2 separate regions of the Homo sapiens genome follow, and region 1 is reported to be linked to region 2. Evidence: microRNA targets listed by miRTarBase, many of them from high-throughput screens and not tested one by one. Region 2 holds a microRNA gene; the other region holds the end of a gene's coding sequence.

Region 1 (3,000 bases), not on the chromosome of region 2:
CCCCATGGCTTACTGCTTCTCGGGGTGGCTGCCGTCTTGCCTGCCGGGGAAGAGCAGACAGTGTAAGGGTGTCCGTGGTGGCAGCCCCTGAGGTCAGCGTGGCTGACCCCTCTCCCTGTGGTTCATTTCTGCAGACCCCTCTCCCTCAGGGCCACAGGCCTTGGCACCTCTACCTGGGGATGACGTCAACTCCGATGATTCCGACGATATTGTCATTGCACCGTCTCTGCCCACGAAGAACTTTCCAGTTTAGGTCCCCGTCACTGTCTCCACGCCGTGATGGCAGCGCTGCCGAGGACATAGGAACCACGACTGGAAAGATAATTTATCGTGTTAGGAGAAGAACGATGATACCTACTTAACACCTCAGCATCTGCGTCGTGTCTCTTTGTGCTTTTGTTTGTGGAAGGAGACCCAAATGCCTTTACTTTATTCTCTGGGGAGGGCCAGCGGCTCGCATCCCCCTCATCTCCAGCTGCAGCTCGGATGGTGGATTTTCAGTGCCAACAGACACATCTGCCGTGAACTCGCAGATGCCAGGGAGCCCTGTAGTGACACGTTCTCTGACAGCACCTTGCCGCCTGCCCACGACCTTGACCGTGAGGAGCTGCTATCCGCAACCAGCGCCGACACCATGCCCCCTCTTCCTGGTGACACCCTCAACAACCAGGATTTGCTCGATCTCAGCCCAGCAGGCCAGGCAGACACACCCCGCTGTGCCTTAGGAAGGTGTGAGACCGGCTTCCCCCATCCCCACAGCAAAACACGGCCTGTCCCAAGCCAGTGAGGAGCTAAAGACACCCAGGTCCCCAAATGATCTTACTCCATGCCCCACCCGCTCACACCGTCCTTTCCCGTCACCCTTGCTATCCCCTGGAGCACTGCCCTCCAGAGCTGCCCTTCCCAGGAAGGAATTTGGTTGGATTCTGTCACTGTGGAGACCAAGATTTTTTAAAATTCCCAATTACAAAAGCAGCATCACACTTGCTTCTGAGAACAGCAGGGTGATGTCTGTTCCCAAGCTGGTGGCGGGAGCCTTAGCCTGTGTGGGGCCACCCGGGGAAGAGGAGGAGAGGAGGGTGAGGAGGCAGGCTCGCCGTTCCAAGGGACAGCATAGGCTCGTGGTGGGGCGTGTTGCATCTGGTGTCTGGGACAGTCCCCGTCACCCCATGTGTGCGGCCTCTGCACTCCCAAGCTCCATGGCTGGGCTGGGCTGGGCTGGGCTGGGCTGGGCCGGGCGTGCGGAGCCTGTGGAGCCAGCAGCTGCAGAGGCCTAGGAGGGAGTTCCTGGGGGAAGCGCACAGTGTCCAGTGCCCATCTCTTGCTTGTGTGTGAGATTAGCCCTTGCTGGGGCGTCAAGAGGAAGAGCCTTAGACCTGGGCGGGCCTTCAGGGGCATCTAGACCCCTGCACAGCCCAGGCCTGGTGTCTGCATTTCCACAGCACCCCTGTGGGGACTCCTGCCGGGGCTGGCCGCTGTCTCAGGAGAGACCCAATGGTTAGAAAGCCCCTTTTTACACAGCTGACAGCTTCTCCCAAGGCTTCCGTCCACGGGGACAGGCTTAACCCCTGGGCGCCTTTTCTGCAGCATGGCGGCCTTCTGAGTCACCTAAGCTGAGCCTGGGTCATTCTCTGTGGCGGTCAGAAGGCCGATGGCCCCAACACAGTGGCTTGTGAAAGGGAGAGAGGAGGCTCTGCATGTCCACCTGCTCTATGGGAGGAGGACACAGGTGTCCCCAGCCCAGCCTGTTCTCTCCCAGTCACTCAGGGATGGGGCCACCCAAAGTGCAGGACCCGCCCCACCCTGCGGTTCGAAGCCTGGCCCCTGTCTCCACTTAGCTTCTGTTTCTGCAGTGGGTGGAAGCGAGTCAGCGGGGGGCCTGGCTTGTGTACGTGTTTTCCTTATTTGGTCTGTGGGTTGCCAAGTCCATTTTTTTTTCCACTGAACTGGCTGGTAACTTGATGGACTGTGTAACTGACACAGGCCCTCTTTAGACCCCTGCCTTCACCCCACCCGCCCGGGTCCACTCCCTGGGGCGCTGTCCCAAGCCATCCCTGCTTGCCAGCTCAAAGCTTCAGGTCCTAGGAGCCAGTCCACCTCGAAAGCCCTGAGAAAGTGAGACACCTGCACATTCGCTGGGGGAGACCCTCCGTTCTCTTGTGGCAGCTGCTCCCACTTGTTAAACCAAGCTGTTTCTGCGGGACGTGCTCACTCTTGGGAACCAGTGGCCTAGAGCTTTGGGTTACAGGCATGGAGAGGGCTTTCCTGCCTCAGGCTTGGAGGCCAATGTTCCATACATAAACCGCCATGTCCTCTGGTGCAGCTGGGCTGCTCTTTTAAAAGCCAGCATCCATCTTGAAGCTCGCTGGGTAAATGGCAATGCATTCTCAAGCCAGTGTCTTCAGCTGATGCCCAGTGTCCAGTGCTGGTCACCAGTCCCCTTTGCTGGGTACAGCCTGCCTGGCTGTTCTGTGGTCCTGGAACGCTGCAGTGTGGTTTTGTTCCATGGAGACAGTACCAAGCGGAGAGGCCTCCTTGCCCACGGCCCCAGGGCCTGGGGGCCAGGGGTTCTGGCCCTGCGGGGACTTAGGCAGGAGGGGAAGAGAAGCCCATGGAGCCATGGGAGGGGTGAGCTGTGGGCGGGGCCTAGTCATGGGAGGGGTGAGCTGTGGGCGGGGCGAGCTGTGGGTGGGGCCTAGCCATGGGAGAGGTGAGCTGTGAATGGGGCTAGCTATGGGTGGGGTGAGCTGTGGACAGGGCCTAGCCATGGGAAAGGTGAGCTGTGGGCGGGGCCTAGTCACGGGAGAGGTGAGCTGTGGGCGGGGCCTAGTCATGGGAGGGGTGAGCTGTGGATGGGGCCTAGCCATGGGAGGGGTGAGCTGTGAGTGGGGCTGAGCCATGGGAGCAGCAAGCTGGTGGAGTGGGCTGGGCGGAGCTGTGGGGGCTGCTGGCAGGGCCTAGGAAAGTAGACAACTCCCGGGGGAGACGAAGTAGAGAGTG
Region 2 (3,836 bases):
TGGGTGCTTAGGGGAAAAGAGAAGAGCTGAACTGGCAGGAGGGTCAATTGGAAAGTTGGAGAACTGCACAGAACAAGGGCTCTCAAAACCTTGATTTCCCTTAATGAAACCACCCACAGTGGCACCATCGTCAAAACAGCTGTGAAGAACTTGGAGGCTCTGTCCTCCTCTCAGCAGATTCATCAGCAGGAAGGACTTAGGCCAGGAGGAAGGGAGCTGGGTCCAGGAAAGGAGGGCTGTTCCTGCAGGCCAAGTCCCCATCAAGGCCACCAGAGCGTGCTTCCAAGTACTGCAGCTTAAGCAACGCCCCCCTGAACTACTGGAGGAATCCAACTCTAGGACCGCTACTTATAACTAAAGACAAGATACTAGCACAAGGCCACTCTGCTGTCCATGGAGAAATACCACCAAGCAGACAAAACATGTTACTGCTGTGCTCAGGCTCTGCCTGCACCGCTGGGCACAGGGCTGGGGTGTCAGTCACGCAGGAATGCAGAAAGCAGGAGGACTCACCAGAAAGGTGGGTCAAAAAGGAGATGTACACAGGCAGGAGGCCGAGCAAGGCACCCATCCATGGAAAACGTGGCGTAAAGATTTGGGGTTATTATGGTTGGTGGTGGGGGCTGGTGAGCAGATCTAATATCTGCACCTCGAGAACACACCATCCCTTCCAGCCAGGGTGCACAGCAAGCAGCTGGCACAGAGCCCCCCTTCCCCCACTCCATTCATGCCCCTGAAGCGGCAACTTAATTTTCTTTAAAGGGAGATTGGGGAGGGAATGGAGAGACGAAGAGAAGACAAATAGCTGGAGAAAGATAAATACCTAAGTAAGTTCCAGGAAAACACACACAGAGGAAACACACCAATGCTGAAACCGCAATGATCCAGAAGAAGCTAGTGTTTGGTTACCATTTGCTTCAGCATCCCAATTTCCCTGATCATCTTTTGTTTTTTTCTTTCTTTTTCTTTTTCTATTTTTGAGACAGGTCTTGCTTTCTAGCTAGGCTGGAGTAGTCATGCGATCATAGATCATTGCAGCCTTGAACTCCTGGGCTCAAGAAATCTTCCCTTCCCAGCCTTACAAGTAGCTGGGACTATAGGCATGTACCCCTATGCCCAGCAACTTTATTTTCTGTAGACATGAGGTCTCATAATGTTTCCCAGGCTGGTCTTGAACACCTGGCTTCAAGTGATCCTCCCACCTCAGCCTCCCAAAGTCATTGATCATCTTGACGTATTTCCTCTCATTAGCTTGTCATTTTCCAGCAGGATATTCTGCGGTCCAGTTTCCCTGTTCTGCTCTCAAATGACTGACAGGGGGCCGACACCCTCAGGAGTCACCTCCATGCAGATGGGGCACTGGAGCACTGCTCTGTACCTCCCAGCAGAGGTGGTGGAATGAGGAGGATGTGAGTATCCACCTTTTTTAGTACAGGCTCCACGAAAATAAACCATACCACCAAATAAATGGTTTAATTTTATTTCAAAATTGTACAAAATGGCCATAAGCGGCTATAAAAAATTTGTCTTCAGAACATGTGGAAATTCAGAAACAACAAAACAGGTATCATTCACAGTGTAATGGAAAAGCTTTTTCTGAGGCAGGAATTATAACTCTTCCTTCTTTTTCCCTAGTCTTTCATGGTCTCCCTCCCGGAGGGCTCGAATATAATTGGTAAATCCCAATTCCTGCAGGGAAGTGGGAGAGAGAGAGAGAGAAAGAGCTTTAATCCCTGAGCTGGCTGTGCACTCTCTCTCCCCACACCCCCAGCCCCTCCAGGGGGTCACTCCTATGACAGGGAGAGGTGGGCAGACTTCTGCAAGGTGGAGAGGGTCTGCGTGGCTTGCACCAGCCCCGACCAGCAAGTGAGAAAACCCTCGGCATCTGGAGTCCAGCCTGCCTCTGGGGACAGGACATCTGTGGCAACCCCTTGGGACTCTCCTCCAACAATGTCAAGCCTCAGCCAGGCCCAGGGCCTGGGCCTCTCGGTGCAGTGTTCCAGCTGACTTCTGCAGTTTCTGGGATGCTGCCCAGTGCTGCCCCTCCTCAGTGGAAGTTTCCCTGCCCATCAGCAGAGAGAGAGCTCTGGGCAGACGCCTCTCCCCCACTTACTGTGCGGTCGCTGTCATACTTTTCTGCGAACTTCCCATAGTGGTAGTAGTGGAAAGTGGGGTAGCCCTTGACCGCCTCCTGCTGGCACAGGTCTTGGTTCTTGTCTTTGACACAGTCAACAGCGGCACAGGCAATCTAGGAGCCAAGGTAAAGAGAGTTGGCACAGGGTGTCCCCAGGCTGAGGCCTGGACCCCACAACACAGATTGCACATCTAGTCCACGTCACAGGCCCACTCTGATTTTTCTCCTCAGTGGCAGGTAGGAACTGAACCAAAGCACCCCCAGCTCAGGACTCCTTGGAGACTGATGGTGCTTGTTTTCAATTTCCAGATGGGTAAGGTTAGGGGACTCGGCCTGGAGTGCCTTTAGACTGTCCTTTAAAATCAAGAGTATGATGATCGTAAAGGAAATGATGACTTGAAAGCATTTGTAAACACCACAGGTTCTGTGGTGCTATCTGTAAGGGACTGTAGGATTTAATCATTTCTCCACTAATATTTCCGGAACATTAGCTTGGGGGGACAGTATAGTGCCAAGGTTAAGGGCAAGAGCTTTCAAGTCAAGTTCCCCAAGTGCACTCTTGGTTTGCCTGGACAGTAAGACTTAAGGAAAATAACTCAGCCTCTTGGTGCCTCATTTTTTTCAGCTGTAAAATGGGGATAATAATAGTATCTAGGCTATCAGGATATTGTGAAGACTGAATAAGAGAATTCCAGTGAGGCCAGTGAGCACAGAACCTGGCACCAGATTCATGGTCAGGAAATGTCAGCTGCTATTACAGTCACTTCTTCCAACCCCATATACAAGCTCTGTCCCCACTTAGGGGCTCAGTGTCTGGGCAGGGGTTGGATAAAGGGACAATTCCAACATGATGTGATGTGAGGGATGAGGGAGGTGGTCCAGGTGCCAGGTGAGTGGGGCAAAGGCGCTCTGTATGATTCGCCATCTGAGCCAAGACTGGAAGAGGAGGAGACCAGGGAAGCACATCTGGAAACTGGAGGAGCCCCGCATGAGTAAAGCCATCAGAATGTTTGGTCAGAAAGTGGTTCCCACATTGGCCACTGGCCTCTTCTTGACCATCTAGCAAATTCCACATGCTGGGTAGCTTTTCCTCATCATTTGTTGTTTTTTCAAAGGAAGACAGTATAAAGCAGAAATGGGGAACTTGTTTCCGGTTGAGGGTCATGCACCAGGGAAGCCCGAGAAGGGGTCCTCAATGGCCATACCCAGTACAGAGGTGTTATGGAAGATGGGGCAGATTCCCATGAGAATGAGTCCTCCTACCAGGCAACACACACTGAAACCCTGCCGTGTGCCAAGCCTGTTCTAGATGCTGGGGGACAACGTCGACCTTGACAAAGTCCAGTTATCAAGCGTCTGCTGTATGACAAATTAGATCATTTTAGATAGAGCTCAATGAATGCTTGGAAGAAATTAAAAGAGGGTGATTCAATAAGATAATTTAAAATTATTGAATAACCATGATTCACACAGTTCTTTGGTTGATGGTTATTTGCATTTGGACAAAGCCCCTTTCCAGGTAGGAGAATCCTGTGGGCCCCCATGGCCACGTTTACTCATCATGTCCCTCATGCCCAGGTGAGCTGCCAGATGGATAGCTGAAGAGAAGAGTGAGGTGCGGCCTCCCCTGGCCACCAGGTGCCACCTTCACCCCCCTCACCCTCACGCTTCCCTTCTACTCTTCAGCTATGTAACATTCTAT

The links. The annotated mature microRNA hsa-miR-7110-3p reads UCUCUCUCCCACUUCCCUGCAG and lies in region 2 at 1,690-1,711, opposite strand. An mRNA with a match to its seed (bases 2 to 7 or 8) in the 3' UTR can be bound and repressed. Matches are read on the target gene's strand: a 7mer-m8 pairs with bases 2 to 8, a 7mer-A1 pairs with bases 2 to 7 and ends in A, and an 8mer does both.
Region 1: miRTarBase lists IQCE as a target of hsa-miR-7110-3p. Seed matches in the 3' UTR shown: 7mer-m8 at 1,681-1,687.

What each region holds. Positions count from the first base shown.
Region 1 is chr7:2,609,910-2,612,909 of GRCh38, forward strand. It overlaps IQCE (IQ motif containing E), which reads left to right. Exons shown (of 22, transcript NM_152558.5): 22 at 135-3,000. The coding sequence ends at 253. Among named protein-coding and RNA genes, the nearest start is that of TTYH3, 21 kb to the right of the region's middle. RefSeq lists enhancers at 164-737, 738-1,311.
Region 2 is chr3:123,159,733-123,163,568 of GRCh38, reverse strand. It overlaps MIR7110 (microRNA 7110), which reads right to left and starts at 1,775; the gene lies at 1,690-1,775. PDIA5 (protein disulfide isomerase family A member 5) reads right to left here. Exons shown (of 17, transcript NM_006810.4): 16 at 2,114-2,248; 17 at 1,465-1,689. The coding sequence ends at 1,609.